Regions from separate parts of the Homo sapiens genome. Here regions 1, 2, 3 and 4 are each reported to be linked to region 5. Evidence: microRNA targets listed by miRTarBase, many of them from high-throughput screens and not tested one by one. Region 5 holds a microRNA gene; each other region holds the end of a gene's coding sequence.
Evidence for each region. Region 5 holds the annotated microRNA hsa-miR-4538 (GAGCUUGGAUGAGCUGGGCUGA, at 1,467-1,488, opposite strand). A microRNA usually pairs through its seed, bases 2 to 8, with sites in the 3' UTR of a target mRNA and lowers its output. Matches are read on the target gene's strand: a 7mer-m8 pairs with bases 2 to 8, a 7mer-A1 pairs with bases 2 to 7 and ends in A, and an 8mer does both.

Region 1: miRTarBase lists PIGM as a target of hsa-miR-4538. The part of its 3' UTR that is shown has no 7-base or 8-base seed match.
Region 2: the mRNA of NUDCD1 is a reported target of hsa-miR-4538. Seed matches in the 3' UTR shown: 7mer-A1 at 2,908-2,914.
Region 3: miRTarBase lists NUCKS1 as a target of hsa-miR-4538. Seed matches in the 3' UTR shown: 7mer-A1 at 4,460-4,466.
Region 4: miRTarBase lists RYK as a target of hsa-miR-4538. The part of its 3' UTR that is shown has no 7-base or 8-base seed match.

The regions. Positions count from the first base shown.
Region 1 is chr1:160,026,061-160,031,165 of GRCh38, reverse strand. PIGM (phosphatidylinositol glycan anchor biosynthesis class M) reads left to right here. Exons shown (of 1, transcript NM_145167.3): 1 at 1-5,105. The coding sequence ends at 698. Among named protein-coding and RNA genes, the nearest start is that of PIGM, 3.4 kb to the left of the region's middle.
Region 2 is chr8:109,238,207-109,243,311 of GRCh38, forward strand. NUDCD1 (NudC domain containing 1) reads right to left here. Exons shown (of 10, transcript NM_032869.4): 10 at 2,713-5,095. The coding sequence ends at 4,803. Among named protein-coding and RNA genes, the nearest start is that of NUDCD1, 93 kb to the right of the region's middle.
Region 3 is chr1:205,713,967-205,719,071 of GRCh38, reverse strand. It overlaps NUCKS1 (nuclear casein kinase and cyclin dependent kinase substrate 1), which reads left to right. Exons shown (of 7, transcript NM_022731.5): 7 at 593-5,105. The coding sequence ends at 792. Among named protein-coding and RNA genes, the nearest start is that of NUCKS1, 34 kb to the left of the region's middle.
Region 4 is chr3:134,153,622-134,158,726 of GRCh38, forward strand. It overlaps RYK (receptor like tyrosine kinase), which reads right to left. Exons shown (of 15, transcript NM_002958.4): 15 at 3,512-4,643. The coding sequence ends at 4,532. Among named protein-coding and RNA genes, the nearest start is that of RYK, 95 kb to the right of the region's middle.
Region 5 is chr14:105,856,755-105,861,859 of GRCh38, forward strand. It overlaps MIR4538 (microRNA 4538), which reads right to left and starts at 1,488; the gene lies at 1,411-1,488. MIR4539 (microRNA 4539) reads right to left here and starts at 818; the gene lies at 759-818. MIR4507 (microRNA 4507) reads right to left here and starts at 1,421; the gene lies at 1,370-1,421. It overlaps MIR4537 (microRNA 4537), which reads right to left and starts at 2,799; the gene lies at 2,730-2,799. It also overlaps IGH. RefSeq lists an enhancer at 5,035-5,105.

The DNA of each region.
Region 1 (5,105 bases), not on the chromosome of region 5:
TCCACCTGCTTCCAGATCGCGACAATGACAAAAGCCTCCGTCAATTCCGGTACACTTTCCAGGCTTGTTTGTACGAGCTCCTGAAAAGGCTGTGTAATCGGGCTGTGCTGCTGTTTGTAGCAGTTGCTGGACTCACGTTTTTTGCCCTGAGCTTTGGTTTTTACTATGAGTACGGCTGGGAATTTTTGGAACACACCTACTTTTATCACCTGACTAGGCGGGATATCCGTCACAACTTTTCTCCGTACTTCTACATGCTGTATTTGACTGCAGAGAGCAAGTGGAGTTTTTCCCTGGGAATTGCTGCATTCCTGCCACAGCTCATCTTGCTTTCAGCTGTGTCTTTCGCCTATTACAGAGACCTCGTTTTTTGTTGTTTTCTTCATACGTCCATTTTTGTGACTTTTAACAAAGTCTGCACCTCCCAGTACTTTCTTTGGTACCTCTGCTTACTGCCTCTTGTGATGCCACTAGTCAGAATGCCTTGGAAAAGAGCTGTAGTTCTCCTAATGTTATGGTTTATAGGGCAGGCCATGTGGCTGGCTCCTGCCTATGTTCTAGAGTTTCAAGGAAAGAACACCTTTCTGTTTATTTGGTTAGCTGGTTTGTTCTTTCTTCTTATCAATTGTTCCATCCTGATTCAAATTATTTCCCATTACAAAGAAGAACCCCTGACAGAGAGAATCAAATATGACTAGTGTATGTTCCACACCCTCTGCTACTGTGTTACATTCTGATTGTCTTGTATGGACCAGAAGAGAGCTTTGGGACATTTTTTCTGAACATTCTAAGCATTCTAGTGAAAGTTCCCATGTTCCAACAGAACTTAAAAGCAATGTTTGCCTTATATATAAAAGGGACACAATAATTGAGGTCCACCTTCTAGGAAATCCTAGGACTCGTTTATTTGGGACATGGTGGGAATAAAGGTCACATATTGGAAAATGGAAAGGCTGATGAAACTATCAGATACTAAAACATTCTTAAAATAGAGGAATATAGTTAGAGACATCAGGTTTAAGCCAGTATTTGTTCCTGTTTTACAATGCTTCTGTCTTAAGCTGTGTCTTAACTTTTAACACCCATCTTTTCTTTCTAAAGCTTTCCTGACAGCTGTGAAAATCCAAAAAATATTCTTAAACTGTGTATGGTGGCCCTTGCCTGTAGTCTCAGCACTTTGGGAGGCTGAGGTGGGAGGGTCGCTTGAGTTCAGGAGTTCTAGACCCACCTGGGGCAAGATGGTGAGACCTAGTCTCAAAAAAAAAAAAAAAAATTAGCCAGGTGTTGTGGTGCACCCCTGTAGTCATAGCTGCATGGGAGGCTGAGGTGGGAGAATTGCTTGAGCCCAGAGCAAGACCCTGTCTCAAAAAAAAAAAAAAAAAAAAAAAGGAAAGGACAACTTTTTAGATAGAAAAGTATTAAATAATACTAAGATGCTTAGTAGTATTATTTTAGAGAGTTTTAAACTTCTATATTAAATGTGGGGTCTTACAAGATAATCCAAAGACTTTGGGAGGCCAAGGCGGGCAGATCACGAGGTCAGGAGATTGAGACCATCCTGGCTAACACGGTGAAACCCCTCTCTACTAAAAATACAAAAAATTAGCCGGGCGTGGTGGGTGCCTGTAGTCCCAGCTACTCCTCGGGAGGCTGAGGCAGGAGAATGGCGTGAACTCCGGAGGTGGAGCCTGTAGTGAGCCGAGATGGCACCACTGCGCTCCAGCCTGGGCGACAGAGCAAGACTCCATATCAAAAAAAAAAAAAAAAAAAGATAATCCAAAGAATTTAAATTGTAATCATGTTTCATGTATTTGTTTTATTACTTACTTTTATAGCACTTAGTCCCAGTGGTATTAGACTGCTATTTGGTTTCATACAAAAAGGATTAAATTTAAATTCATTCATGTTTAGACTTGAGTTATTACATTTTTAAAACTATCATCTTGCCTTTAATGTTTGTGGTCCTACACAAACTATTAGTACATTTCAGTATCCTCTTACCCCTTTGTTTTTAAGTTTTTGATTGCTAAAGCAAGACTTTTTTCTTCTAGAATTTAAGTCAACCAAGTGTTATCTATGTTGTAAAAATGGATAATAGTAGATTTTAGGTGATAAAACAACTTGTTAGTAAGACATTTCCTAGCTTAAAAAAAAAAATCAAAAATTCCATGATAGAAATGCAGACCTGTGAGGGAAACTCCTGAAAAGCATAAGAAGCATCCCAGAGAGCCATGGGTTTTCTAGACCAGAGAATTTAGAGGGAGATTGTGGAACTGAGGCTTAGGTGGTCAGATCGTTTCCCTTATCACTGTAATATTTCTGGGGGAAAAATGCTTTCTGAGTTGTTTAAACAAGCATCCTTACATTTTTTTTTTTAATTAAACAGCCTGTCTAGGCTTGGGATTCCCTAATACTACAGTAGCAGTATATGAATATGATTTTGTGATTGTGTTTTTTAAAAGATAAGTAATTTGATGAACTGTTCTTTTGCAGTCAGAAAACACTCACAAAAAGACAAAAAAAGTTCCACAGTATTATATTTCATGTCAGTTCAGGCCTAAAATCCTTTGCAAATAAGATGTTTATAGGCTGGTCACAATTAACAATGTTATTATTGGCAGCACTTCTTGGATGGATACCTTTTGGGACCTTTCATTAGAAAGAGGGAAAGAATGGGGTGGTTTTGTATGGGCTCCTGTTTGGGGTAAAAATAGCAGAGTCAGTTGCTGAGGACAATGACCTTCCTTATAACATTTAGTTTCATACCCATATTAGGTCTTGTCTTGAGGACCCTTTATATGTGCTTGTTTACTAGTGGCCTTCCAGCCATAGCATTCTTACCTTTTTTTCCTATTCTAAGAATTAAAAAAAAAAATTATAGAGCCAGCAAGGGAGGAGGCAGGAAACAGAAATCGAATTTCATCATTCCAGTATAGTTGTCCCTTTTTTTGTATTTCTGACTTGGTTTTATAATTATATTTACTTACTAATTATTGTTTTTTAACATTCTTTATTGTGGCTTACTCTTCATACTTAGAATTGAAATTGTTGGACATCACATGTATATTCACATTATAAATACATCATTCTTCCACTGTTAGACCTTTAGATTGCTTCCAGTTTTTAATATTCTAAATAAGACTTTCAACATTTTCTGTGTTTTAGCTCATTCTCTTAGGACATTCTTAGAAGTTAGAAACATTTCTGCTGGGATCGTTGGAGGGAACTTCAAACTTTGGAATCTTTCCTGCAAGAAATTCTTTACCAAAGAAAGGCAGGTGTTTCTTAAAGGGATGCAAAAGATATTTTGCACTTTGTATGTTCCAAAACATTTAGTAAGTTAACTAAAAAAATGAGTTAATTTGGTTTCTTGGGGGATTTTAATTTTTTAATTTGTTTTCTGGTTATGTAAAAAAAATGTTTTTTTTTTGCTTCTTATCACAATCCTTTTGTTTCCTTTTTAATCCTTTAATAACACCTTCAAATTTTATAAGACTTTGGCTTATTTCCTATATAATTCTTTTTTTCTTATACCACCTCTTAAGATTGATATGTTCATTTGCAGGTAAGCATTAATTATTAGATAAAGAGGGATGATTCTCAAGATTGTGTGTGTTCTGAACAGAGGGAACTACATGACATTTTCTTCTGTAATTGCCTTTGTAACGTCTTTAGAATGTGGTTCCTAAATATTCCTGGATAAATTCTCTTGATAGGCCCATTGGAAAGGCTAATACTCCCACCCAGTGCTTTGTTCCTTCCTGGCAAAAGAATTCCTAAAACCACTGATTTTAGTTACTGACTTCTCACCATCTGGACTCTTACAAGATGTTTCAGAAGTTGTGTAGAACTTGTCTTTCAGTTGACTTGTGGCTGAATTTACTGTTACTTCTCTAATATCAGTTGTTTTCTGCATTACCACCCTCTCCCCTAACCATCTGTACTATGAATGGAAAAGGAAAAAGATGGAAAAATTATACCTAGGATTGTCCCTAAATGCAACCTCTTGGTTCCCCCCACCCCTCATGTTTTATTATAAACGATTTTAAGAGCTGGGCATGGTGGTTCATGCCTATAATCCCAATGCTTTGGGAAGCTGAGGCAGGAGGATCACTTGAGGACAGGAGTTTGAGACCAGCCTGGACAACATAGTGAGACCCCCATCTGTACAAAAAAAAAAGTGCTACTTGGGAAGCTGAAGTGGGAGGACCACTTGAGCCCAGGAATTCGAGGAGGTTATAGTGAACTATGATTGTGCCACTGCACTCCAGCCTGGGTGACAGAGCAACACCTTGCCTCTAAAACAAACAGCTCCAACTATTTTATTTTTTTATTTTTCTGAGACAAGATGTTGCTTTGTCACCCAGGCTGGAGTGCAGTAGTATAAACATGGCTCACTGCAGCCGAACTCCCAGGCTCAAGTGATCCTTCCTCCTCAGCCTCCCAAGTAGCTGGGACCACAGGTATTTGCCACCATGCCTGGCTAATCTTTATTTTTTGTAGAGACGAGGTCTTGCTATGTTGCAAGAGGGAGATCACTTAAGTGATCTTCCCTCATTGGCTTCCCAAAGTGTTGGGATTCCAGGCGTGAGCCACTGCACCCCGCCTGACCTAACTATTTTAAACACTACTCATATTGCCATCATCTAAATTCAACAACAATTTGCCATATTTGCTTTATGTATATGTATAATTATATATTTATAAAATTTTTTGAACCATGTGAAGTTGCAAACATCATTGAACTTCACCACTAAATATATCAGCATGCATCTCCTAAAAATCAGGTATTTTCTTACAAAACCATAATTCTGCTATCTATTATGATTTAACATTCTGTCATTTTCAAATTTCTTCAGGTGTTTTTTGTTACATCTTAAAGAACAGACGTTCTTGGATCTCAAAGATTCCGAGGAAGGAAAGAACATGGTGGATAATCCATAATTAAGAAGTTTGAATCTTTTCCTAGTCTTAAAAACAAAGTGAGAACTAAAGGGGTTTACCTTCCATCAAAGTTGAACAAATTAATTCTTTTGTGTGTCATACTTTCTGTCTCTCTCCCTAAAAACATGGGGGTGGTAATCTCTTTGTTTTATCTGGTAGGT
Region 2 (5,105 bases), not on the chromosome of region 5:
TCACTGATCTGTTTTCTATGTGTTTGCACTTTCTAGAACTTTGAGTTGAAGCATACAGTATGTACTCTGGCTTCTTTCACTCAGCATAATTACTTTGCAATTCATCTATGTTGGGTATATTGATACTTTTTATTGCTGAGTAATAATCCATTGCATGGACATAGCACAATGTATTTAGCCCTTCATCTGTAGATGGATATTTGACTTGTTCTGAGGTTTGATTATTATGAATGCTGTTGCTCTGTTCAAATCTTTGAATAGACATATACTTTCATTTTTCTTAGGTAAAAGAATGGGTAAGTGGAATAGCTGGGTCACATGGAAGATCCATGTTTAACATTTTAGAAAACCACTAAACTCTTTTCAAAGGCGATTCTACCATTTTACATTCCAAACAGCAGTGTTTGAGAGCTCCATTTGTTTCATACCTTTGCCAGCATCTGGAATGGTCAGTCTTCAATTAAAGGATTTCAATAGCTATGTAGTGATACCGCATTGTGCTTTCAATCTGCTCATTCCTAGTGACCAATAACGTTGAGTGCCTTTTCACATGCTTACTTGCCATTCATCTTGTATGATGTATCTGTTCAAAATTTTGGCCCAATAAAAAATTTACATATTTGATTATTTTATTATTGAGTTCTGAGGGTTCTTTATACATTCTGGACACTAGTGCTTTATTAAATAGTGATTTGTAAATGTTTTCTCCAAATCTGTGGCTTTTCATTGTCACAACACTGCCTAAGAACGTAATTTCTTAATTTTGATGAAGTATGATTTGTCACTTTTCTTGTTTGGTGTCATATGCAAGAAATCTTTGCCTAACCCAGCCTTACAAAATTTTTCCTTTATGTTATCTGCTAGAAGTTGCACAGTTTCAGGTTTTACATTTAGGTCCATGATCCATTTTAAGTAAATTCTGATATAAGGCTGTGTTAGTTTCCTATGGCCGCTGTAATGAATTTACCACAAATTCGGTGGTAATGCATTCTGTCACAGATCTGAGGCCAGAAGACCAAAATCAAGGTGTCAGCAGGGCCATTCCCCCTCCAGAGGCTCTGAGGGAGAATCTATTCCTTGCTTCTTCCAGCTTCTGGTGGCTGCCAGCATGCTCTAGCACTCCTCGGCTTGTGGCCTTTTAAACACCATCTTCACATAAGCTTCTCCTCTTTGTGTTTGTAATTGCACTCTGCCTCTCTCTTGTAAGGGACACTGCAATTAGATTTAGGGTCCACCCCAGATAATCCAGGATAATTTTTCCATGTAAAGATCCTCATTGTAATCACTTCTGCAAAGACTCTTTATCTTCATAAGGTTATATTTTCATGTTCCAGGGATTGGAACCTGATATCTTCAGGTGGCCACTATTTAGGCTACTACAAAGGCAAAAATGAATACCCAATTGTTTTTGCGCCACTTGTTAAAAATATATCTTTTCTCCATCAAATTATCTCTGCATTTTGAATTGCCTCTTCATTGAAATATCTCTGACTAAAATCAACTGACCATATGTGTCTGAGTCTCCATCTGGACTCTTTATTCTGATCTATGGATCTATTTGTTGAAATTGGTGCCAATACCACATTTTCTTGATTACTGTAGCTTTACTGACCATCTTTATTTTCTTTTCTGTGAATTAACTGTTCATATCTTTTGTCTGCTTTCCTTTTGTATAACTTGTTTGCTTTTTTATTAAATGATAGTTCTTATGTTCTAGATTTTAACATTCATACATTACGCATAAGTCACATATCTTTCCTCAGTCTGTTGCTTTATCTTATACCAAAAGTAGGTCATAAAGAAATTTTACATTTTGTAATGATCAAATTCATCAATCCTTTCGCTTATATTTTTGCCTTCTGGATCTTAAGAAGCCTTCTCAACCTTGAGAATATAGATATTTTCTTCTTGTAAGTATAGGACGATTAAATGTGTGTCTATTTTGTTTACTAATGCAATGATGCTACTCTTTTTACTGCTTCATGATGTATCTTGATATCTAGTTGGGTACCTTTTACCTTGGCTCTTTTTGTGCATTTATTCTTTCTTACCAATTCTAGAAGGCCTTACTTCTCTTTGCTTTATTACTTCTATACTTCCATCATTGGGCTTTTGTTTTTTACCACTCAACTATTATTACTTGTTCAGTAAGACACACTTACTACTAAGAAGTAATTAGAATATTCTTCCAGTAATAATCAGTGATAAGTATCAGTTTTGCCTTCTTATATGACTTGCCACACATAAACTTACCATCTGTTCTTTTCTATAGTTAATAACACAAAATATTAGAAATTCCTGTGTAATGATGGTTTAACTTGTTCTGTACAGTCATTTCCCTTTTATGTAGAAATTTGATGAGTATACTTTATTTAAGAGTATTTTTTTTAACATTGTTAACCATTCCTAATTTCTTGACACTCTGATTCTTTTTTCTAACTCTTCCCATTGGCAACTCCTCTACCTGACTCTTGTGGGTAGTCCCCAAGGTTCTAGCCCTGGTCAGACTTCCTTAGCAGGAAAGCAACCACTCTATGCCACCCTCTCCTCTTTTTTTCCCTAAAAAGAAATTTTATCTGAAAATCATTAAAATGTAGATTGTCTCTTTATCCTTAGTAATATATTATCCTTAATACTGAAAAAATCATGCTAAGGTACATAGTTGATGCTTAAATGTGTTAAAAGAGTGAATATTGTTAATGACTCTTAATATGCAAAACACATAAAATACTACTTTATTACTATCATAAATATTTTATAAATTCCTATTTAAAACATGATAAAAATCAACAAAAATACAAGGTACTATATTCTTAGCACTTGTAGTATATATCTCAATGTTCTAAGTATATGTACCTTAGAACATTGTTTAAATGTTTATGGAATCCCTGAAGCATTTCAGGAAAATAGCTTGAAATCACGGCTCTAGACCTATTCATCTTTTAACGTAGGTCAACATGCGACAATATTTAGGATTAATTATCCTGAGAGCTTTCAATTCAACATTAATCATGCAAAAAAATCACATGCACAAAGAATATTGATTACTAAAATTGGCAATATATACATAGTCATGGTTAATTAAGCACCACATTTTTATTATACATTTTTCTTATGTTCCCTAAGAGGATATTATCTTTGGGGAAAATTTTAGAGAAAATTTAGATCTACTTTCCCATCATAAAGATTTTTAATAATTCACTATTTAAATGGTCTTTTGTTTCATGAAGTTTTACAACAATACTAAAAAGTTCTGGAAATATCACTGTTTTGGTTTTTGGTTACTATACAGTTTTCCATCTCTATGATCTCGTGATGTTTGGTATCTAGTCTCTCTTTCCTAATACGAATAGAGTACTATTAGGACTCCAATTGTCAATACCAGTCCTCAGGACCTTTCCTAACTTTCTACCTAGCACCTCAATACTCTCTAGGAAACTGCAATCTGACAAAGGGTTTAGAACATGTATGCAATCCTCATCTTTTTTCCTCCTCTCTGTCATTCATTCGTTCATTAAAATTTAGTTGAGTCAAATACTTGCCCAGACAGGCAAAAGATATGTTAGGAACAAAGCTTTTCTATCTTATATTTCTTATCTTAATCTTCTGCCTCTTAAATGAAGGTCTTAACTTCCTTATTAAAATATAAAATCCAACTTGAGGTTTATATAAGATACATATCTTGAAATGGTATAAAAAGTAATAAAAATTTCCAGGTACATACATACTAAAACAAACCTGGAAAGGTAAGTTTGAAAAAACAAAATTTGTGGCAAGAAACTATAACATATAAACAGGATTATTTTGTTGAAGTTGTTAGAAAAATAAAGAGAGCCACAAGGATAAATTATAATTTGTCCTTGTGTGGTAAGATTGTTCCATCAATGGCCCCCAATGAGTCATACCATCCGCTGTCAGCTTGTGTAGTCCCCTCATTCTGACTCTAGACTTGGCCATGTGATTTGCTTTGTCCAATGGAACATTAGTAAATATGATAGATGTACAGGATCGATAAGCTCTTGCATATTGGAGCTTGCTCTCTTAAGATGTTTTCTCTACTATGGAAAGAAGATTCGTCTAGTCTACTGGAGGCTGAGAGGCCCTGTACAGCAGAGACAGCCAACTCACTGAATCGTGAAAAATAATAAAAGTCCTTGTTTTAAACCACTGAGTTTTGGTGTGGTTTGTTATGCAGTGATGGATAATGTGAAATCTTATCTCTCTTTGTCTATGTCTGTGGCAGAGCAACTGGCTAAAAGTTACATAAAGCTATACTTAATTTGAAAATAATAATAAAGGTCTCTCAGTAAACTTAAAAAATATTAGACCTGCTGTTCTCTAGCATTTCCTCCTCCATGTAGACTCAGTTATTCAATCCACTTAAATACATATGTACAATACTCAACATTTAACTATTATCCTGTACATCTTATAGGTACAGCCTGTAGCAACTAATCAACGAACAGAGTACACAATAAATATTTTTATTTTTAAACACTGAATTGTACATCTTTCATATAAAACATGAGATTCTAGCCTGTTTTAAAAAATAAGTATACTTGCTAGTACTATCTTCACTCTTTTTTTTTTTCAGAAGCCAATGTTCTCTAAATCTGCAGCTTCATTCCACAGCTTTACAGAATCATAATCTCTTGAATATATTTCCAATGTTATTAAAAAATAAAAAATCATACAAGATATATTTAGCACATTAAAACTTAAGAGGTTACAGTATAACTGTCCAGACCTCCAGGTACCACTGAATACTTTTCCAGTACAAAGAGGCCAATATGTTAGAATAATTAATTCTCTGTATTTACTTTTATTAAAAAGAGGTTTTTGGTAGTAAGAACAAATAATCTCTCATTTGTTGCCTGAAATCCTAAAATAGGATCATTGGTTTCTAGGCTTGCTACTTGCTGCTTAGCAACCTGTCCTACTTGCCTGCCTTCCTTTCTGTTGTAAAGTACAGTGGACATGGGAGCAGGCTGACGATAGATGAATACTCGACGAAGGCACTCACAAAGGGCTGCATACGAGTAATTTGGAGCACAGGCAAAAAATTTTTTGTCTCTCTTTGATGCTTGGACATAGCCTGCCAAGAA
Region 3 (5,105 bases), not on the chromosome of region 5:
ATGAGTTGATTTTTTTCTGAGCCCTAATGGTTTCTCCTCGTTGGAGCTAGTTTGTTAACTAAATCAGAAATCAATTTGCTTTTTGTGTAGGTGGTTTTATTCTGTTAGGTAGAACTAGTCATTGTTAAACTTCTGTTTATCACTTCCTACTGTTAGGAATGATGGAACTATCAAATGTTATTTGATGGCTTTAGTTTCTGATCAGATTAATTCTTTTCCTTCCGTCTTTTTGACCTGCTTTTTATAAACAACTTTTATCATAAACAACTGTTAGTTTACCAAGCAATTAAGGATGTTGTGCATATTCTATAGCATGGTGCTTCTTCTTTACAGGTATTACTGCTAACATCATAGAGTGTTGGTAAAAACTGATGGGAAATACTGTAGCATAGTGTAGTAACTTATGACCAGTTTAGAAACTGAGATAGATTTACCTAGGGATATATGTGCTCCCTTGTGCCCACCTTGGTTTTTAGTAAGTTGCATATTGTCTTTATAGATTTTATTCTTACAGATTGTTGTATTTTGTAGCTGACTTTTATTAAAGACATTTTTTTCTCTTCCCTTCCCCAAATTATTTTTCTATTTTCAGTGACGCCAAGTCCAGTGAAAGGCAAAGGGAAAGTGGGTCGCCCCACAGCTTCAAAGGCATCAAAGGAAAAGACTCCTTCTCCCAAAGAAGAAGATGAGGAACCGGAAAGCCCGCCAGAAAAGAAAACATCTACAAGCCCCCCACCCGAGAAATCTGGGGATGAAGGGTCTGAAGATGAAGCCCCTTCTGGGGAGGATTAAAAGTGATGATGGTCTGGGGAGAGATTTTATTAAAAAAAAAAAGAAAAAAAAAGAAAAAAGAGGGAGGAAAAAAAAGAACCTACTTAAGATAGAACATGGTTTTGGCTATGGCTTGACTCATGGGCTTTCAGTGCTTTTTTCCATTTGTTGAAAGTAACATTTCTCTCTCTCTCTCTTTTTTTTTTTTTTTTTTTAAAGCAAACCATTGTATGTGTAAGTGTTTAAGTTACCTTTTTGTCTATTGGTCTCTTTGCCAGCCCTCCCCTTTCCCAATGAAAGCCATGTCAAATTAATCACTGGATTGACTGCTTCATCTTTTTATTTTTAATGAAAGGTGTACCACGGTTGTAAAGCAATAAGATTTGAGATGAACACTATTGAAACTTCGCTTTTTGCTAAAAAATAGCAAGTTGAATAGTAATCAAAAAACATAGAAAGATTTTAGTTCAAAATGATTGCTCCTTTCTCTACCTGGACTTTTAAAAAATCAATTGTCATCTAATATGAGTTTATTTGTCTATAGACACAAGTATCAATGTCTAAAAAAAATCATGACTTTAAACTTCCACCGATGAGGCAGGTAGGAGATAAAGATGAATTCTGAACTGTTACTAAAAGTACTCATTTTTTACCTTGTAGGGAGGGTGGGCAATGGGGTTACCTGACCTTATTTGAGGGTATGGGCTTTCTTTTTTATTTCATCACTTGTTATCTCAAAGAGACTCGGAGCCAGTGATCCTTTTATCCTGCTACAGTCTTTAGGGAGCTAAAAAAAAAAAAAAAGCAGGGGCTGCCAAAACTCTTGATTTCATATTTCCTTCTCTAAATATATATGTATCCTGTTTTTTGGATAAAATTTTACCAAGAATCCAAAAAAAAAAAAACCCTAGAATTTAATCAACAAGATCAGTCTACAGGTCACAGTGGATTTCTTTTCAAACTGACAATGTTTAGGTTTTAAGCAAATAAAGTTCCAGTTAATGTGAAACTCAGTCACAAAGAGTTGAGATTTTTCCTTTATGAAATAGAATTGACATTCTTTTATGCTATAAATGTGCATTCAGGTCCCATTAACCATGCTCTGCTTTTATTTGGGGATAGAACATTTTCTTTTTCATATCCCGATCTTCCCATTTCTTCATAGAAATGTGATAAGAAGTACATCCCTGTGATCCTGCTGCTTCGTAGAGCACCACTGCACACCCTACCCCGAGTGCCAACCACCTCTGCTATAGGACACTATTTTCCTGGCCCTATTCTTCACTTACTTCCCATCCTGTCCTTGACTAGGAATATGTTAAATGCTGCTCCCATACAATTCAGTTAGCTCTTGTCTTTTTATTTGGTCCAACCCCTGCTTTACTGCTCATGCTGCTTAAAGCAGGAGGGACTAGAGAAACAAGGCATTTTAGGAGGCCTGTGTGCAGTTGAAAACCGACTTTTACACGCCTTATAAAAGCAGTCAGGAGATAGATCCGTAGGTTTGATCCTTCACATCTAATACCAGGCGCTAATGGGAACAAGGTTTAAAGGGTCCTGGTATGCTAATAAATTGAAAAATTAGTGAAATTTAAACTTCTGCCTTTTTTTCCTGCCTTTTAATCTAGATTTGCTTCCTCAATATCCTACTTTGTGGTTTACTAGGAACATGCTTACTCTGATCTTTTTTTAAAAAACACACAGTGGCAGAGTCATTTCACTATTGCACTGTGTGTTAAAGAATGAATAAGGAGTTTTCAGTTACATGGCCAAAAATACAGGACTTGAACATAAATAGCAGTTGGATCATTCTCTTTCATGACGGTTAAATTCAGAGGTGTGAACTTTGTAATGAGGGTGTTAAAGATTAATCTATTTGCCTAAATGGGTTTGTTCAGGTATCCATTTTTAACAAAGAAGTTTGTGTTCATATAGTAAAAGACCTATCAGTGTTTCCACCATGCACTTCTATTTTTTAGGAGTTTATAATTTTAAGTCTTACATTCCTAGTAACATTTGGGCTTTTCTTAGGTTATGTTTCGTGAAGATTTGGGGGGAGGGCTCTTTTAAAACTTCAGCCTCAGTTGTTTAACAGTCTCTTTAATATATTAATCTGCACTAACATCTCTGTGATATATGCACATATTTTAGAGGTAATCATGTCTTCTAGATTACTTGTGTGCATTTGATTGGGCTTCTTGTTTAGGGTCCCTTTTAAAATTAATTCATTAGATTGAAAAATGTATTCTATATTTCTGATAGACTGGACAGAAGGATCTGTGTCCCCAAGTGAGACAGGCTCTGAATAACCTTTGTTTTCTCCACTTTTTATTGATGATTTAAAACACTCTAGTCTTCCCCTCAAATCATGCATGCAAATAGGAGGACAGTGGTGGTGACTCAACTGGATACAGGTGCTCAATAGTCAGGCTTGATAGTGATGTCAGGACGCATTACAAGCTGTAAGCCGATACTGACTGGCCATTGGCACCATCCTTGACTAACCTTCCTCTTTTTCTCTAGTGTGCCTATGGTGAAATGGCAATAGCATTCACTGTCGTATTTTGCAGTGCTCAGGAAGTGGGACGTTAACTTTGAAGGTGCTTGTTTGTATTAGCTCTGCTAGGTTTACCTCTACAACGTAGATTTCAGCAGCTATGCTGACTGACACTACATTCTAGTTCTTAAGATTTTTTTTCCAGATCCCCCCTTCCCCAGCTAGACATACGTAGCATACTTTCATCTTATTCAGTCTTTCTGTAACCTGCTGCTGCTTTTAGTCCTCCTCACCTCAGATCGGAATCAATGGAGTGGGCCCAGAGGATACATTTTAATTCCAGTAATGGTAGGTAGATTTGTCCTGCTTTCTAAAACATCTCCTCATTTCATATTTCCACTCCATATTGATTCCATAAGGGAAAATTAATGGGTGTTTCCTCCTTTAGGGAGGTAATGCAAAGAGTGTGGACATCTTCTAATCTTGAGGAACAGTAGTTGATTTCCCTTGAAGGAGCTTACATATTGACTGTTTTCACAATAACCTGTTTGCCCCAGTTCAATCCTCATTTTAATACTTAATTTGGTACTGGCTCAAATAGCATTTTCTTACAGATAACAAATCAAGAGTGAAATTTGAGGTTATACTCCAGTAAAGTTTTTAACACTTGTGAATATGGTCAGCTAGACTAAACTTGACTCTTTTTTTTAATGGCTTTTTTATCTGTGAACATTCAGATAAGTGGATTTTCAAGTACTGGTTGGGGATGGGAATCGTGCTTTTCTTTAAACTTCAGTTTACGAGATGCTTTGAGAGCGTTAGGCAAAAGCAGAAATAAATATCAGGAGCAACGGGGAAAGCTTTATAAAAGATCATGGTGGCCACTGTTGCAGCTTTGAAGAATGAGTGCTGGCTTGAACAGTTCTTTGCCTGCATCATTGGTAGCTGCACTGAAAGGAAAAAACTTTCACCTTAAGAATTTGAAAAGGAAGAAACCTGGGCTCTGGTCTTCATGGCATTTAGACTGAGATGCTTAAACAGAACAGAAGTAATACGCATTTCCTGCCATAGGATAGGGAAAATGTAACAAGCTGGTTGCTCTTGAGGTTAGAAAATTGTCTGTTTCTCTGTGGATGAAGCTGGATTTACTTGAAAATGGAGAGTTGGCTTATTGTTTGAATATTGGGACATCAAGCTATCTATAGCCAAGTTTCAGTCGCAACCAGTTTTCCCTTTGTCTGGGGTAAATTCGATACAAAATGATTCTTTTTGAATCCTGAATCCATAAATTACACTTTTTTTTTTCAAATTCACAAAATTCACAGTGGTGCTGACTGTGTAATAACCACTATTGGGAAACATCCCGTAAACCTGCCTGTTGCCATGCCAATGGAGTGACTGAACTGGTGACATCTGTTTGAGCATGCTTTGTGTGGCTGGTAGAATGCCACCGTTGTGCATACACTTTGTACATCAGGGGTGAAGGGAGGGTTTTCTAGATTATTGGGGGAGGGTAAAATTGGGATTTTTTTGTTGTTCCTTTTTTGATGGGGTGTGGGGGTATAGTACTCAGCTTATGCCCTAAAATAACATGTATAAAAACCCCTGAAGTATTGTGTGGGTGTGTACGTGTGAGTGTGTGTTTGTATACATCTGGCAATTAAAGCTTTGTCTTCTGGAACTTAGTGAATTCTTTTCTCTTTTTCCTCCAGAAGTATTTGTTACAAGATTTGTAAATAAGAGCTCTACTTAGTTTGTTTACCATGAACATGTTGCAGCAAACCTTATGCATCTAATTCCTACAAGGTTAAAGAAAGGCTTTTAGACTTGCCAGGTT
Region 4 (5,105 bases), not on the chromosome of region 5:
ATTGCTCTCCTGTGCAAAATTTAGATATTTTCACTCATTCATTCATTAAATATTCACCCCTACCATGTATTGAGCACACCACTAAAGCAATGGAGATTCAGATCTGAGTAAAACACAAGTTCCTATCCTCAAGGAACTCACAGCCAAGTGGTGAAAAATAAACCTCCATCTTACCTTTGTTAAAGTTCAAATCCAGGGAAAAAGGCTGAAAAGCAACCACGAAGCCTGGAGGAGAGCAGTAAGGTGTGAGAGGCACCTTCTTGGTCCCAAGGCGGCAGTGTGGGGAGTGCGGGGAGCACGTCATTCTCGGAGAAGGGGAAGGAGCATGCCGAGCGGCGGGAAGCGTGCAGGCCCGAAGTGGGGAGCAGGAGAAACGGCAGAGCTGAGTGGATACTCTGCCTAGGTCTGAAGTCTACTCTGAAGGCTCCAAGCAGGGACAGCGGCTCAGTTTTATAAAGTGTTACCTGGGCAGTTGCTGGCTAGAGGGGTTCAAGGCCGAGGCCAGGGAAGCAGCTATGGGCAATCTGGGCAAGGAAACATGACAGCTGCAAGCACAATGAGGGTGCCAGTCTGAAGTCCCAGGAAAGCCCCTCAACAGAGGCAGGCTGTTGGGTAATGGGACGGTGGCAGTTTTGTGTACCGCCTCCCTTACCTTACCTCCCTCACATTTCTCCCCCAGTAAACACACAACCCTTATACAACAAAAGGGCTCGGGGCCAGAGTGAAAGGCTTTCATGGTTGTGGACCAAATGGCAAGGAAGAGCAGTGGCCCATACCCCAGAGGGATTTTTCTCCCTCTACCGGATCATTCCCATGAGCCCATGAAACATTTTCTGGCACTGTACCTTCATCTGGAAAACACTCTCATCCCTGTCCCTCTTCTCCCGAAAAACCCCCTTTGATCTCCTCTAGTTATTGCTTCATTTCCCTTCACAGCAGGGCTGACAGTGGTAGGCCTTTACGTCCCCACCTGTGTCCACACTTCGACTTGCTCCAGTCCCCATGCTCCTGCCAGTTAACTCCATATTGCCAAATCTGATGGAGGCGTCTCCATTTTGAAACACGACCTTTCTTGGGCTCCTGCAACACCTCATTTTCACTTTTTTGTTGTTGCTTTTATCAATTACAGTGGCTTTTCCTGTCTTTGTTATCTCTTCTTTCTTCACTAGCTGGAACTGAAGGTTAGAATGCTCAAGACTCAGTCCTAGGACCTCCTCTCCATCTATACACTCTCTCCCTATCAACTCCATCCAGTACCATGGCTTTAAAAATAGTCTATATGCTATACTCCTACATTTGTATGTTCAATGAGACCTTCCCTGAGCTGCAGACTCTCATCTATCAAAAATCTCCATACAGATGATCAACTGGCATCTCAAACACAGTCTACACCAAATTATGGATTTCTCTGGCCAATGCAAAATTCAGTTTCTCCTAGATTTTTCCCCATCTCAGTATATAGCTTGGCCATAAAACCAGATGCTCAAGCCCCAAATCAATTAGTCATTCCTCACCTCCCCGCTTCCTTCTTCACCCCACCGTCAACATCCAATGGATCCAGGTCCTGGTGTATCTTCAAAACATATCTCCAATCTGCCCCTTCTCTCTGTATCTCCTCACTACTCAAAGTGGTCCAAACCACTATCTTTTCTTTTCTGAACTATGCAACGGCTTCTTAAAGGGTCTCATTACTTCTTCCTTTGAATTCTCACAATCCAGTCTTCACAGAGGAGATGGCACAACCTTTTCAAAATGACAAATCAGATCATATCGCTACTTACTTGAAAAATCCTCAAATGAATTCCCATTGTATTCAGCAAAAAATATAAATGTATGCCACAGCTTACAAAGACCTGCTTCTTTGTACCACTCCCTTCCCTAACTACATTCTAGCCACGCTAGCTACCTTTCTCTTTTTCCAACAGCAGCAGCAGCTAGAGAATGAAGGGGAACGGCTGAGATTGGAGGCCAGCTTGCTTCTGCTTTAAGGCTTCTGCAATTATGTGCCTTCTGCCTCTGTGTTCTCATGGCTGGCTGCTTCTTGCCATTCAGATCACAATTCAAATGCCACCTGCTTAGAGAAGCTTGGCTAATTATGACATCTAAAGTTACACTCTCTAATATCACTCTATTATTTCTATCATAGCACTTACCAAAATCTTATTTATGTTCATTACCTGTTTTTCTTAACTAGAATGCAAAATCTAGAAAGGGAAGAACCTCATCTATCTTGTTCCCTGCATTATCCCGAGAGCCAGGATACAGTGGGCACTCAATAAATATATACTGAATGAGCAACCCAATCCTCCCTCTATCAATAAAAAAAAAAAAAATTTCTAGAACAGGAGGATTACAAGAAAAAACAGAATAGAATGCATCTCTAGGTCACCAGAGCCAGCTTATAATACCACAACACTGCTTTGTCAATTTGCTTCTTTTCCATAAAAATTATATTTTCTGCAAAATCAGTAAAATGTAAAACTTCAGTAACATTCACAATCTACAATAAAACTACTGGAAGAACATGAGTCAGGGAGATCTTATAACTGCTCTTTCCTTCCCATGTCAAAGACTCCAAGTAGCTCACCAAGAAAAATCTACTACAATAAAAATACATACATAAAATAAAAGTGCTCACAAACACAAAAAGATAAGGTTACAGGCACCACACCATCCACCAAACTGAGGACATTTCTTACAATCTGCTAATTGGGAGTAGAAGTCAGGTGTCAGTACTTATTTTTTTTTTAAAATAGATCATGTACATGTTAATAAACTGTGATTTCTAAACAATGCACTCACTTGAACATGAAATAAGAATGCCCTGAATACTGGAAGGGACGCTTGAGTTGAACCACTCCATGTGGAAAATACACAGTAAGTGCTGTAAATGTTGACTGAATGCCTTCTAAGAATGCAGGTTATGAATGAAAATATAATTTACAAATGGTTCAAAGGGACCTTTTAAAAAACAGTACTCCAGGGACTGGCTTCATATGAGTATTTCATAAAACCAAAGAACTGTTAATAAATGTACACAGAAAATCATGCCCTTGGCTTACTTGTGGAAAACCAGGTACTATGTGAGCTATTTTTCCCGATGTGCTGCTGATTCATAAGGCTTTTTTAAAAACAGCAAAAGCCTCCAACTGCTACACATTCTCCCTTATATACCTCTGAAGATGGGAGTAGTGGCAGGTACCTGCAGGCCTAGCTATTTAGAAAGCCCATTCAACTCTGCTTTAGGCCAACTAAAACTGAGCATAAATACATACATATCCCTTACTTGCTGGTTCTGGAGAAATGTTTCAGTGTTTTAATACTTCCTTATAACATTAATTCCAACTTTTTACTAGAACCTGGAGTCTGAGCCAGCTTAACTGTGTTAGGGCTTTGGAACTTGACTGGAACATCATGAAATAAAACACAAATGTCTGGCTGTTGAATGTTCAAAGACTTACCAGACACAATAACCAATCATTCATTATGAAAAATAATTTCAATACTGTCATAATATAAAACAAATCCTTTAATTTTTCAAGTGTTTAAAAAACAATTTTATACTTAAGCCAGCCTTGAAGATAAGCACAAAATTTACCAGTTTACATTTAAAAAACAAACAAAAAACGACAACAACTCAAGCACCCGCTCTGTGCATAGCACTATTCTAGGTGCAATAAAAGGGAATCTTAACCTTAGAAATATGAGTTCACTTTCTGGAATTGTATTATCTCCTTTTCCAGAGAGTAAAAATAAATAAAATCACCATTGTTTACTACAGATCTGCCCCAAACCACATCTGGTTCACAGAAAGGCTAATTTCTGCCAAATTAAAGATGTAATGAACTCAGTTCCTGCTTTCCCAAAAACACGAAAGCAGAATTCCTTTTCACTGAAAAAAATAAACAGTTTTCCATGCAAGGGCAGTTTGCTTCTAATAAGTATTTTTAAAAAAATTTTTTTTTCCTCTAGCTTTTCTTTAAATTTTCTTCCTCTAATATTGCCTTTTCTTGTACAAGGCAGACCAGGTATCTTTTTATGCTGTTTTTCCTTTACTAAGAAAAGTATTGCATCTTGAAGACAAACCATTTCCCAGAGTAGTGATAAAAAATAACACTAAAAAAACTTTAAAGGTGAGTCACTTACATCACCTTGATGAAGTAAAAAAATAAAAAGCAGTTGGCACTAAGATAGCTAATTCCAAATATCTGTGTCTAAACAATTTTAAAAACTGTTTATTTATTTTGTAAGAATGTACCCCTAGTCCAAAGTAAGTATGTTTTAAAAAATTTTGGCCAAAAAATTTACAAAAACCCTTTCAGTTCAACCTAATAAAAGTGATATCTAGAAAATATGCCACATTATTAAGTCTGTCTTAAAAAGTTCAGATTCTAAAGCATTTCTAAGGCACGGTGTTCTGGAAGACAAATGTGCTTCTGTTGGCGTTGTGTTAGATACAAAGCATCCCTGACAGGCTTCAAGTGAGCCCCGACAGGCACCTTCTTCCTGATGGTGTGGGATTGGAGAGGAGTCAGACGTAGGCCCCCAGGGCTGCATGAAACTCTGTTAGGCACTGTACCAGCTGCTGAAACTTGGGCCTCTCCTCTGGATCTAAGGCCCAGCAACAGGCCATCACAGCAAATCTGCAGAGTGACAAAAATGAAAATTTGGGCTAGTAAGGATACAGTATTCATAACTTTTGCTCAGTTTGATGCCAGTTATGTTGCCTGTCTAAAGGTGGGTATGGAGAGGATGATATATTAAAAACGGATCCATTTTACTATCTGTTGGCAGCTCTAGAAAGAAGCTAAAAGAAATTATTTGGATTATGTGTGAATTTCAATTCTTCATGACAACATATCAAAATATTTCAGCAAATACAGAGATTTCATGTAAAAACCTAAAACACAGTAAAAAAAGAATGTGTGTTTTCCTGTAGTTAAATTAAGAAAAGAACTTGGAGGAAGAGAAAGTTTTATCTAAGTTCTATGAACCCTGGATCTAGAGTAAAATCAGTACAAAAGCTGCCACCTTGTCATGGTGCAGAAACCTTCAGGAGGTTCTGGAACTGAGAATATACTCATCTGTACGATCAATCACCCTGC
Region 5 (5,105 bases):
AATAGAGTCCCTCCAGCCCAGCTTCTGCTGCCCCCAGCTCAGTCACACTCCAGCTACCCTGAAGTCTCCCCAGGCAGACAACCCAGGCCTGGGAGTGAGTATAGGGAGGGTGAGTGTGATGGGGAACGCAGTGTAGACTCAGCTGAGGCTATCCATCTATGTCCAACAAGATCATGAAGATTGGCCCAGTGCCATGTCCTCCAGTTCATCCCAGCCCAGGCCAGCTCAATCCAGTTCATCCCAGCCCAGGCCAGCTCAATCCAGCCCAGCCCACCCCACCCCAGCTCAGCAAAGCCAAGCTCAGCTCAGCCCAACTCAGATGAGCTCAGACCAGCTCAGCCCAGCCTAGCTGAGCTCAGACCACCTAAGACCATCTCAGCTCAGCCCAGCCCAGCTAAGCCCAGTATAGCCCAGCCCAGCTAAGCCCAGTATAGCCCAGCCCAGCTAAGCCCAGTATAGCCCAGCCCAGCTAAGCCCAGTTTAGCCCAGCCCAGCTAAGCCCAGTATAGCCCAGCCCAGCTAAGCATAGTTCAGCACAGCCCAGCTCAGCTCAGCACAGTTCAACCCAGCTCAGCCCAGCTCAGTGCAGCACAGCCCAGCTTAGCCCAGCCCAGCCCAGCTCAATCCAGCCTGGCTCAGCCCAGCCCAGCCCAGTTTGGCTCAACCCAGCTTGGCTCAGCCCAGGTCAGCCTGGCTCAACTCAGCCCAGCCCAGCCCAGCTCTGCTCAACCCAGCTCTGCTCAACTCAGCCCGGCTCAGCCCAGCTCAGCCCAGTTCAGCTCAGCCCTGCTCAGCACAGCACAGCAGAGCTCAGCTCAGCCCAGCTCAGCTCAGTTCAGCTCAGCCCTGTTCAGCACAGCACAGCAGAGCCCAGCCCAGCCCAGCCCAGCTCATCCCAGCTCAGCCCAGCCCAGCCTAGCTTAGCTCAACCCAGCTCAGCACAGTTCAGCTCAGCCCTGCTCAGCACAGCACAGCAGAGCCCAGCTCAGCCCAGCTCAGCTCAGTTCAGCTCAGCCCTGTTCAGCACAGCACAGCAGAGCCCAGCCCAGCCCAGCTCAACCTAGCCTGGCTCAGCCCAGCCCAGCCCAGCCCGGATCGGCTCAACCCAGCTTAGCTCAGCCCAGGTCAGCCCAGCTTAACTCAGCCCAGGTCAGCCCAGCTTAACTCAGCCCAGCCCAGCCCAGCTCAGCCCCCAGCTCTGCTCAACCCAGCCCAGCTCAGCTCAGCTCCGCTCAGCCCAGTTCAGCCCAGCTCAGCCCAGCCCAGCCTAGCTTGGCTCAACACAGCTCAGCTCAGCCAGCCCAGACCAGCTCAGCTCAGCCCAGTCCAGCTCAGCTCAGCCCAACCCAGTCCGGCTCAGCCCAGCCCAACCCAGCCCAGCCCAACCCAGCTCGGCTTAACCCAGCTCGGCTCAGCCCAGATCAGTCTGGCTCAACTCAGCCCAGCCCAGCTCAACCCAGCCCAGTTCAGCCCAGCTCATCCAAGCTCAGCTCAGCCCAGCCCAGTTCAGCCCAGCCCAGTTCAGCTCAGCTCAGCCCAGCCCAGTTCAGCCCAGCCCAGTTCAGCTCAGCTCAGCTGAGCCCAGCCCAGCCCAGTCCGGCTCAGCTCAGCCCCGCCCCACTCAGCCCAGCTCAGCTCAGCCCAGCTCAGCCCAGCTCAGCTTAGCCCAGCTCAGTTCAGCCAGGCACAATCTGGCTCAGCCCAGCCCAGCCCAGCTCAGCCCAGCCCAGCCTAGCTCAGCACAGCCCAGTTCAGCTCAGCTCAGCTTAACTCAGCTCAGCTCAGCTCAGCCCAGCCCAGCCCAGGTCAGCTCAGCCCAGCCCAGCCCAGCCCAGATCATCCCAGCTCAGCTCAGCTCAGCTCGGCTTAGCCCAGCTCAACCTGGCCCAGCCTGGTCCAGGTCAGCCCAGCCTGGACCACCCAGCCCAGCTCAGCTCAGCCCAGCTCATCCTGGTTCAGCTCAGCTCAACCCGGCTCAGCCCAGGTCTGCTCAACCCAGCCCAAATCAGCTCAGCCCAGCCCAGGTCATCCCAGCTCAGCCCAGCACAGCCTACTTCAGCTCAGCTCAGCTCAGCCTAGGTCAGCTCAGTTGAGGTCAGCTCAACTCAGCCCAATCCAGCCTGGCTCAGCCCAGCTCACCCTAGCTCAGCTTAGCTCAGCCCAACTCAACCCAGCCCAGCCTTGCCCAACCCAGCTCAGCTCAGCCCAGCCCAGGTTAGCCCAGCCCAGCCTCGGCTTAGCTCTGCTCAGCTCGGCCCTGCTCGCCTCAGCCCGTTCAGCCCAGTTCAGCTCAGCTCAGCTCAGCCCAGCTCAGCCCAGCCCTGGTTAGCTCAGCCCAGCTAAGCTCAGCTCGGCTCGGCTCTGCTGAGCTTGGCCCAGCTTGGCTTAGCCTGATACAACCTGCTCAGCCCAGTTCAGCTCGGCTCAGCCCAGCCCAGCCCAGCGTAGCTCAGCTCAGCTGAGCCCAGCCCAGGTTAGCTCAGCCCCAGTCCAGGTCAGCTCAACTCAGCCCAAACCAGCCTGGCTCGGCCCAGCTCACCCTAGTTCAGCTTAGCTCAGCCCAGCCCAGCCCTGCCCAACCCAGCTCAGCTCAGCCCAGCCCAGGTTAGCCCAGCCCAGCCTCGGCTTAGCTCTGCTCAGCTCGGCCCAGCCCAGGTTAGCCCAGCCCAGCCTCGGCTTAGCTCTGCTCAGCTCGGCCCTGCTCGCCTCAGCCCGTTCAGCCCAGTTCAGCTCAGCTCAGCTCAGCCCAGCTCAGCCCAGCCCTGGTTAGCTCAGCCCAGCTAAGCTCAGCTCGGCTCAGCTCTGCTGAGCTCGGCCCAGCTTGGCTCAGCCCGACACAGCCTGCTCAGCCCAGTTCAGCTCGGCTCAGCCCAGCCCAGCCCAGCGTAGCTCAGCTCAGCTGAGCCCAGCCCAGGTTAGCTCAGCCCCAGCCCAGGTTAGCTCAGCCCAGCTCAGCTCTGCCCAGGTTAGCTCAGCCCCAGTCCAGGTTAGCTCAGCCCAGCTCAGCCCTGCCCAGGTTAGCTCAGCCCAGCTAAGCTCAACTTGGCTCAGCTCAGCCTAGCTTGGCTCAGCCCAGCACAGCACGCTCAACCCGGTTCAGCTTGGCTCAGCCCAGCCCAGCCCAGCCTAGCTCAGCTCAGCCCCGCTCAGCCCAGCCTAGCTCAGCTCAGCCCCGCTCAGCCCCGCTCAGCCCAGCCCAGCCCAGCCTAGCTCAGCCCAGCTCAGCCCAGCCTAGCCCAGCTCAGCCCAGCCCAGCTCAGCGCAGCCCAGCCCAGCTCAGCGCAGCCCAGCTCAGCTCAGCTCAGCCTAGCCTTGCTCAGCCCAGCTCAGCTCAGCCCAGCTCAGCCTAGCCTTGCTCAGCCCAGCTCAGCCCAGCTCAGCCCAGCTCAGCCCAGCCCAGCCTAGCTCAGCTCAGCCCCGCTCAGACCCGCTCAGCCCAGCCCAGCCCAGCCCAGCTCAGCCCAGCCCAGCTCAGCTCAGCCCAGCCCTGCCCAGCTCAGCCCAGCTCAGCCCAGCTTAGTGCAGCCAAGCCCAGCTCAGCTCAGCTCACCTGGTGCAACTTAGCCCAGCTCAGCTCAGCTCAGCTCAACCCAGTTCAACTCAGCCCAGTTCAGCTCAGCTCAGCCCAGTTCAGCCTTGTTTAGTCTAGGTCAGCTTAGGTCAGTTTTGCCCATCTGAGTCCATTTCTGAAAGCTGGATGGAGTTGTCATGGCCAGAAATGGTCAGCCCACCAGACCTGCTTGTCTCAGCTAAAGCCATCTCATTGCCGGGTTCCTGCACAGCCAGGCTGGCTTCCATCTTTTGTCTCCCTCTACTTGATACCCCAGTTCCCTGCAGTCCTGCCCCAGCGCCACCTGGGTTTTGGTTCCAAAGCATTACCAATCATTACCACCCTCCACTACCTGGGTGGAATATTTCTTTGCTGCTTTAAAGTCATTAAAACATCTTGAGAATGAGACCAAGAATTTAGGAGCCTGTGCTGTGATAAAAATGAGCAGGTCCCCTTGCTCTAGAAGTGGCAGCATATCTTCTGCACCAAGAGGAGGGTATTGAGATGCTCAGAGCCTCCACCTTCCCGGAGCATCCCCTCCCTTCTGAGTCTGCAGTAAACCCCTGCCTTTAAATTCCCTCTAGATAACAGTCATCATTGGAAACAACCAAGAAATGCATTTTATCTGAATTTGCCACTTAAAATTCTGCCATTTACCATAAATCGCTTTGGAAGGCATGGGCTACTTTCAAGGGTGCGATGATGACCTACAGTCAATGACTTAGACAAGGGCGATGCCAGTGGGGCTTGGTATGTTCTCAAGCATCATTACCCATGCCATCCCCATTCAGAGGTTGTGGAGCAGCTCGTGCGACCTCTCCTTCAAATGGGCTTTAGGGAAAGTTAAATGGGAGTGACCCAGACAATGGTCACTCAAAAGACTCACATAAATGAGTCTCCTGCTCTTCATCAAGCAATTAAGACCAGTTCCCCTTCTAGTGGAAATAAGACGTCAAATACAAAGTTTTAAGAGAAGCAAATGCAGCAGCGGCGGCTGCCTGTCTCTTACCATGTCGGGCGCCTGGTCACTGCGAGCCTTGCAAAGCTTTGGCATGGAATCATTCCTCCAAGTCCATTAACAAGGGCTGGGGCCTGAGCAGCCAGTCGGCCCGGCAGCAGAAGCCACGCATCCCAGCTCTGGGTAGTCCGGGGAGACCCAAAGCCCAGGCCGGGCCTGGCAGCCACCCTCCCAGAGCCTCCGCTAGGCCAGTCCTGCTGACGCCGCATCGGTGATTCGGAACAGAATCTGTCCTTCTAAGGTGTCTCCACAGTCCTGTCTTCAGCACTATCTGATTGAGTTTTCTCTTATGCCACCAACTAACATGCTTAACTGAAATAATTCAGGATAATGATGCACATTTTACCTAAAACTTATCCTAAAGTGAGTAGTTGAAAAGTGGTCTTGAAAAATACTAAAATGAAGGCCACTCTATCAGAATATCAAAGTGTTTCTCCTTAATCACAAAGAGAAAACGAGTTAACCTAAAAAGATTGTGAACACAGTCATTATGAAAATAATGCTCTGAGGTATCGAAAAAGTATTTGAGATTAATTA